3 separate regions of the Homo sapiens genome follow, and all the other regions are linked to region 1. Evidence: fine-mapped expression QTL. A gene starts in region 1. Each other region holds a variant in brackets. All regions are shown on one strand. Distances are from middle to middle. Region 1 holds the start of AK4 (adenylate kinase 4). Region 2 has its middle 44 kb from the start of AK4. Region 3 has its middle 2.0 kb from the start of MIR3671.

Evidence for each region. PIP is the estimated chance that this variant, and not a neighbour inherited with it, causes the effect.
Region 2: its variant is the best candidate, but not a certain one, in a credible set for the expression of AK4 in subcutaneous fat (TwinsUK, PIP 0.85).
Region 3: its variant is the best candidate, but not a certain one, in a credible set for the expression of AK4 in whole blood (TOPMed, PIP 0.68).

The regions. Positions count from the first base shown.
Region 1 is chr1:65,146,906-65,149,665 of GRCh38, reverse strand. AK4 (adenylate kinase 4) reads right to left here and starts at 1,463. Exons shown (of 5, transcript NM_013410.4): 1 at 1,114-1,463. The coding sequence starts at 1,258. RefSeq lists enhancers at 1-214, 215-933 and silencers at 527-806, 867-1,166, 1,547-2,046, 2,057-2,296.
Region 2 is chr1:65,102,367-65,105,126 of GRCh38, reverse strand. No RefSeq gene overlaps it. Among named protein-coding and RNA genes, the nearest start is that of AK4, 44 kb to the left of the region's middle. The variant A/G (reference allele first, on the strand shown) is at 1,045.
Region 3 is chr1:65,054,511-65,057,270 of GRCh38, reverse strand. It overlaps a transcript of JAK1 not described here. Among named protein-coding and RNA genes, the nearest start is that of MIR3671, 2.0 kb to the left of the region's middle. The variant T/C (reference allele first, on the strand shown) is at 1,328.

The DNA.
Region 1 (2,760 bases):
TTGTTTTCTGGTACTGTCCTCCACCTTCCTTTTCAAGCCAGTCTGTGCTTCTGAAATGCAGATCTCCGGATAATTAGTCCATGATGGGCAATAACCAGCCCGGACATCCTTGAGAAGTACATCGACAGTAAAGGACCCCTGCTGGGAAGAACAACTTTTCATAAAGGAGTTGCTAATTACCAGCATCTCCATCCCAGAAGGGTTAAGAGCCTCGCAGCAGCACAACCGCTACCTCTCGCCTTTTAACGCCAATTCTTTCGGAACTGGTGTGAACGTGGAGTGGGAGGAGAGGGGGAAAGGGACGCACTCAACCCCGTCAGACTAAGAAATCAGGCGATCTATATATCCCCAAGTTCACCACGCCAGCCAAAGGAGGCATCTCATGCCAAGGGAGGCAGCTCAAGAAGCCATTTCCAGGAAAGCTGCATTACAAAATGTAATTTATCAGAACGAGTCTCCTCCGAGTCTCCTGACGGCCAGGCCCGGCGGCTTCGGGAGGGGGGGGAGTTGCTGGGGAGAGTTTACCTTAGAAGGCGACAACGAACAGACAGGCCTTTCAAAGCCACCCAGGGCTCTGCCCCGAGGCCCGAGGCTGCGTGGAGGGGCTGGAGAGGCGCGAGGCTGCGAGCCCCCCGGCGCCACAGGTTCCCCGGCGCGCGGCCCCGCCCGACTGCCACAGGTGGGCGGCGCTCCGCCTCTGGGCTCCCGCGGGAGGGGGCGCGCGGCTCTCTAGGGACTCGGGGGAGGGGGCCAGGGCTAAGGGGTACGGGGACGGCTCTGCCTTAAGGAGGGCAGCGTGAGACGGAAGCTCCGGGTTTTCCCTGCCTAGTTCTCGTTCCCTCGGCCGGGTGGCTCGGGCTATTCCTCGCGACAGGAGGAGCGGTGGAGAGGAGCCGTGGGCACCTCCCACCGGCCGCCCCTGGAGCCTCGGCCTCCTCCCCAGGCGCGGTTAAGCCGCGCGGCCGCCAGCTGCATGCGCCCCGGCACGTACGAGCCTGCACGACCACACGCGGGCGGGGGAAGGGCGCCGTGATCCGGGAGCCCCAGTCCCTCCAGGGCCTCACCCCAGCCCAACGCGGCTCGCCCCCGGCCCTCGTCCCCGCAGCCCCTCACCGGTGCTGGCCTTGATGTTCTCCCGCAAGAAGTGGCCGCTGGAGAGATGCTGGAGACCAAAGTTCTGGGCGATCCTCTGGCACACGGTGCCCTTGCCCGAGCCGGGCGGCCCGAGGATGACCGCGCGCAGGAGTTTGGAAGCCATTGCCTTCGCGAGGAGGGGGGCGGTCAAACGCGCAGCCCCGACCGCGGCCCCGGAGGAAGCCCCGGGAACTTTGTTTCTCGGCCCCCTACCTCTGGCACCCTCCGCTCTCACTGGGACTCGCCGGCCGCCCCTACAGGGGGAAGGAGAGACTTTTAAGACAACCCCTCCCCTCAGCCCAGCGCCGGGACCGAGTAGCAGGCGGACTGAGCGCCACGCTACACCTCCCCGCCCTTCTCCACCTCCTCGCCCTCCTCCACCTCCTCGCCCCCACGCAAAGCTGCTGAAGCGCGCCGTGCCCCGCCCTGCCGACTCGGCCTCCAGGGGTCAGAGGTCGGCCCGGCCAGTCCCACCTTCATCCTTAACTCCAGCTCGCTCCCCACGCCGCGTCCGAGAAGGGGGCCGGGCGGCCAGGCATCCCCAAGCCAGTCTCCGCCGAGCCGGGGAAGCTGGCACAAGCGGGGGTGACTCAAAGCCAGCCCCCGCCGCCCCACGCACCGGGCGGCCTAGGGGCTGAGCCCCTGCCCGGTCCTCGCACGTGGGCAACGTGTGGTCTGCGTCTCGTCCCCTCCCCGGCGGCTGTCACATCCCCCGGAGTCTCAGCTGCCGCCGCTGCCCGCCGCCCGCGCGCGCTCGGAGGGGCCCACCTCCGCCCGGGGTTGGCGGATGCGCTCCCCGGCCATGGGGCGCGCGACGAGCCCGAGCCCCGCGCCTCGCCACCAAAAGCAATCAAATAAACACACACCTTGGCTGGAGGCAGCACTCCGAGAGGCTTCCAGCCCGGATCCTGCAGGGCGGCGCCGCCTCCGCCCGCCCAGTCGCGGAGCCCCGGCCGGCCGCGCGGGACTCGCGCCTTACGTAAGCCCGGGAGACCGGCTCCGCGCGAGCCGCTGGCCGCCGCCCCCTCCCCTCCACTCCACTCCACTCCCACCCAGCCTGCCTGGCCCACGTGCTCCCTGCGACCCAGCGAGGGCTGCGGGGGCGAAGCGAGGTGCAGACCACGCGAGGTAGAGAAACCCCTTTTTTTCTTTCGCGGTCGCCTGGGGACCGCGGTCTACTGCAAGGGAAGGGAAAAATACAACTTGTTGAGCGCCTACTGTGCGCCAAGTTTGCGGCTAGGTGATTTCATTGTGTTTACAGCCGAGGAATGGAGCGTGACCATTCATTCATTGATTCATTCTGCAAATGTTTATTGAGTGCCTACTGTGTGCCAGAAACTATTCTAGGCGCTTAGGATCTAGCCGTGAACAACAGATCGAATCCTGCTCTCAAGAAATTGCGTCCTAGCGGGAGGCTGGAACCCAAGACTGACTGACTCCAAAGTCTAGGCGCCTTAGGGAACAGGGAAGAAGGGGATGTCCCTCACCTGTGTTCAGGACCTTCTTGGTAAATGATTCCAGGACTTCCATGCGCATTATGCTGGTGCTGCACCTATAACTCACCAAGTCCAAATGGAGTCTGTCTTCCCCCACTCCACCCTCCCCTGCATATCCCAATCCACATTC
Region 2 (2,760 bases), 45 kb after region 1:
TAGTCTGCCAGTCTCCAACTTGCACCCCTTGGCTCCATTAGCATTATTGCAAAAAGTCCACAAGTCTATGTAGGCATTTAGCATTGGGTTCAGGCTGAATAAAGGTTATGTCTTGCACAAATAGGTTCTATTTTTCAAGCCACAAGTGGCTTAGAACACTGACTCTAGAGCCATGCAGCCTGAGTGGAATCTCAGCTCCACCAGTACTAGTTGTGTGCCTTTAAGAAAGGCACTTTCTGTGCCTGTTTTCTCATCTGTAAAACAGGGATAACTATACTTATTTCACAGGATTACATGAGCTAATACTTGTATACTTTTTACCATAGCATCTGGACTATAATAGGCACTATATAAATGCTAGCTAAAGAAAACAAATAAAAAGTAAGCCAGGCATGGTGGTGCATACTTGTAGTCCTAGCTACTTGGGAGGCTGAGGTGGGAGAATCACTTGAGTCCAGGAATTTGAGGCCAGCCTGGGTGACACAATGAGACCCCATCTCTAAAATAAATAAATAGAATTCAACTAGATGATCTGAGAGAGAATACGGAGATTCAACAGAGAAGTGATGAGAAGCACTGAAAGCAAGTTAGGAGATGGAAGCAAGACAGTTTGTTTGGCTCGGATCAGCTGGGAGCCAGGAAAAGCCCCTTGATATGGGAAAAGGGTAAGAAAGAGCCCCAAGGCTCCACATTCCCACCACAGCCTTTTATAGTCTTAGCTATAGGGGAACCAACCCACATGGGCCTTGAGACTATCATAGGGAGCTGCCTAAAGACTGCACAGAGGCCGGGCGTGGTGGCTTACACCTGTAATCCTAACACTTTGGGAGGTCAAGGTGGGTGGATCACCTGAGGTCAGGAGTTCAAGAACAGCCTGGCCAACATGGTGAAACCCCGTCTCTACTAAAAATACAAAAATTAGCCAGGCACGGTGGTGGGTGCCTGTAATCCCAGCTACTTGGGAGGCTGAGACAGGAGAATTGCTTGAACCTGGGAGACAGAGGTTGCAGTGAGCTGAGATTATGCCACTGCATTCCATCCTGG[A/G]CAAAAGAGCAAAACTCTGACTCAAAAAAAAAAAAAAAAGGCACAGAGGCATTGCTCCAGAGAGGGAACACACACAAAGTCCCACAGGCATCCATGTCCTAAGCAGCTGCAGCTTGGTGCTATTCTGAGAACCAAGCTCTCAAAGGTCTGCATCCTGCCCTAGGGTCTGGGCTGTCGCTGTCATCACTGGGCTAAGGTGGGAGAGGGGAGGCTAGGCGGTCCCATGTACCCCAAGGAAAATTCCCATTGCTGCTGTGGCAGAATGCTGTGGGACCAAGGCATGAGCAAATTACACTGCCCACAGTTACCTGCCTTGGCTGCTCCAGCAGAGACAGGCTCCACCTTCAATGGTGGCAGGCCCACAGTGTGGTCACCATTGCCCACATCTGAGCCACGCTGCCCCTTCCTATTGCAGCCAGCACCTGAATGCACTACCAAGGGGGACTGAGGACATGTCTACCAGCCTGGTCTCCTTCCACCAGTACTCAAGTGTGCTATCCAGAGGTTGGGTCAACCCAACCTGCCAATACCACCACAGCTATCACCCAACTGGATGTATCACCAGGGACCAGATATCACAGCTATCACCCAACAGCATGTACCACCACAGCTATTACCCAACTGCATGTATCACCAGAGGGACTAGCCTGCACAACCTGTCACAGCCACTACCAACACCACCATGGACCTCCTGGACTCCAGTGGGTTTGTTCTACCACTGCTACTGCCATGGCCCACATCACACCAGCTGCCAAGGGGCCTGATAACTTGCACATACGCCCAACACACTGTTGCCACAACCAGCATTTAAGCAAGCCATCTAGAAGGCTAAGAATCAGCACTCCAGGACCCACTAACGTTGGTGCCAACATAGGTCCCCTGAGGCCCACAAACAGGCATGCTTGGCCCACCACTACCGCCACTGGGGCTCAAACACTGGCCCGCCCACTTGGCACCCTAGTTCCAGCAAAACCTAACCACAGACTCCAGTAATAACCAAACCTGAAGCCACCAAAAAAGCATGGATGCCACTGATGCCATTTACAGCTGAAGAAACACAGCCAGGCTGGGTGCGGTGGCTCACACCTGTAATCCCAGCACTTTGGGAGGCCAAGGTGGGTGGATCACCTGAGGTCAGGAGTTCGAGACCAGTCCAACCCATACGGTGAAACCTCGTCTCTACTAAAAATACAAAAATTAGCTGGGCATAGTGGCATGCGCCTGTAGTTCCAGCTACTCAGGAGGCTGAGACAGGAGAGTTGCTTGAACCCCTGGGAGGCGGAGGTTGCAGTGAGCCAAGATCGCACCACTGTACTCCAGCCTGGGTGACAGAGTGAGATTCCATCTCAAAAGAAAAAAAAAAAAGAAATCACATAGCCCACATGCTATTGCATGCACCCCAAATCAAGGCCAACCAATGATCCTATCTAACCAACAACATATACACATCTTCAGGGAAAAATCTTCCCCTACAAAGCAATTTCAAAAAATTAGAAGAAGTGACAATTATGCTAGATATGCAGATGTCAATGCAAGGACACAGGAAACATGAAAAAGCAAGAAAATATAACACCACCAAAGGAAAACAATAATTCTCCAGCAGCAGATCCCAATAAAAAAGAAATTCACAAAATACTGATTTTAAAGAACCTTGGTGAGCTACAAGAGGATTCTGAAAAAGAATACAGAGAAATCAGAAAAACAACTCAGGATATG
Region 3 (2,760 bases), 92 kb after region 1:
ACACTGTACACATGTAACAATAGCAAATAAGAAACAAAGTGCATGACTTGATTATGTGTTAGATCTTAGATCACAGTACTGTGCAAGGAAGGCTCAGGTAATTTCATGGAACGTGTTTTAGGCTCAGAGCCTAATCGGGTATATTACCTCATCCTAGGCTCATGTCTGTATCTGGGAGCCTGTGGATGTCTGACTGGTGTAGGAACCCAAAGCAGTGACCCATATGCTTGAGCAAAGAGAACAGAGATGGCTGAGGTTAGGCTGTAATTTGAACCTACCTACCACAGAGAGAAGAGGGGCCAGGGAGAGAAAAACCATTTGTGACTTTTTTTTTTTTTTTTTTTTTTAAAGAAAGAGTCTCAGTCTGCGGTCAGGCTGGAGTGCAGTAGCTCAGTCTTGGTTCACTGCAACCTCTGCCTCCCGGGGTCAAGTGATCCTTATGCCTCAGCCTGCCGAGTAGCTGGGATTACAGGTGTGCACCACCATGCCCATGTAATTTTGTATTTTTGGTAGAGATGGTGTTTCACCATGTTGCCCAAACTGGTTTCAAACTCCTGTCCTCAAGTGATTCTCCTACCCTCAGCCTCCCAAAGTGCTGAGATTACAGGCATTGAGCCACTGCACCCGGCCTCGTGTGACTTTTTAACATACTGTGAACCTTACCTACTATCAGCCCTGCCAACTGCATGTCTTAGATATGGGTCAGGTGTATTATCAGGTCCTCCACTGGGACACAATGGGGAAGAAAGGGAACTGAAAGGGAGTAGGCCTCGTACAGAGAGGTTCTTTCTTATCCTTCATTGTGCCAGTCCTCAGACATTGATGGTCACTGTGTTCCTTTGCTGGTGATTGCAGTTCCCTTTAGTGTCTCTTCCCTCTGCTCTACCCAAAGAGGAACCATTCTTAGTAGTGATCCCTTGAGCCACACTTGGTTGGCCCAGAACTGTTATTTTTTCAGACACATTGACCACATTATAGCCCAGTACCTTCACATGTCCTCATAGATCCACAATTTCTCTAAGCTATATAAGCTACACTACGTTTTTGATTAATTAGAGAGAGGGGTCTCCCCAGTTATTATGCTACCACTCCTGAAATTCTTTGGAGTTTTCTTAAAAGGAATTTCTGACAGAAACTCTGGAAGAACTTTTAGGAAGGGAAAGTTAGGGATTGGTGAATCCTCAAGTAATTTGAAACACTCCTTATGTTTAGTGTTTGAGCAGGTGGAAAAAAGTGCTTCAAGAAGTTATGTGTTGTGCAATCATTGGCCTTGGTGAAGATTTCACCACCTTCCCTGATCTTCCTGTTTTCCCCGTTACTAGTTTTA[T/C]AAAAATTCATTGGGTTTTATACTTACCCAACCTTGACCTCAAAATCTACAACCAGGCCTGTGGGGTGTTGAAGAACTGAGTGTTGGGTGTCATTTGCAGTCACCCTGCACTACGGACAGAGTCATGCTGGGTCCCCTTTCCTCTAAACAAGAAGGCTGAGGCTTAGTCTGCAGCAGGAGCTCCAGAAGCTTGCCTGGACCTGGAGGTCTTTGGCATCTTCAAGGCATTTCATAGACGTAAGGTGTTCCAGCAGGTTAAGAGAGAAGTGATGCAAGACAGATCCAATGGGGTTTTTCCACTGCCTTGCTTAAAACACAGTGTGTGTTTGGTTGGTATATTCGTTACATTTTTCAGTTTAGGTGAAGTATGTGAGATGGTAAGATTGCAATTAAACCTAGGAATACCGTATAATCCAGCATTTCCACTTCTGGATACATACCCAAAAGATGTGAAAGGCGGCACTCTGACAGATATTGTATACCCATGTTTATAGCAACATGATTCACAATAACTAAAAGGAGCAACCCAAGTGTCCATTGATGGATAAGTAGATAAATGAAATGTAGTGTATACCTACATTGGAATATGATTCAGCCTTAAAAGGAAGGAAATTCTGACATATGCTACAACATGGATGAACCTTGAAGATACCATGCTAAGTGAAATAAGCCAGACATAAAAGGGTGTATACTGTTATGATTCCACTCACATGAGGCTCCTAGAGTCGTTAAATTCATACAGCCAGGAACTGATGGTTGCCAGGAGCTGGGGGAGAGGGGGGAATGGAGAGTTAGTGTTTAATGGAGTTGTATTTGGGGAAGATGAAAAAATTCTGGAGATGGATGATGGCAGTTGCACAACAACATGAATGTGCTTAATGACACAATGTACACCTAAAAATGGAAAATTTTATGTGTATTTTACCACAATAAAAGAGATTCAGGATAATAACCCTCTTGAAGCCAAAAACAGGATTTAGTTGATTTCTCTGCTCTCCCTTAGTTTTCCGTGTGAAGATAACTGCTGTTTCAAGTAAGCAATTAAAATGTAATTGCCATGTCTTTATGCATTTCAAGTTCTCTAATCTGAAGTCCTTTACACATGTTTCCAGGGTTTCCAACATAGCATAGCTTTAGAATTGTGTAAAATGTAAAGAAAACTCAATATAGTAGCAATGAATATTAAAAACAATGAGAAAAAGGCGTGGACAAGAAGTCACCTGATGTGGCATCTCTTGCTGGCTTTATGTCTTTTCTGGTGAGATTGGGCAACTCACTGGTCCTCTTCCTGTTCCAGTTGCCTCAACTGCCCACGTCTTTGGAGTTATGCTACCACTCCTGAAATTCTTTGGAGTTTTTTTAAACAGAAAAGGAATTTCTGACAACCTATGGAAGAACTCATAAGAAGGGAACGGTCTGGGATTGGTGAATCC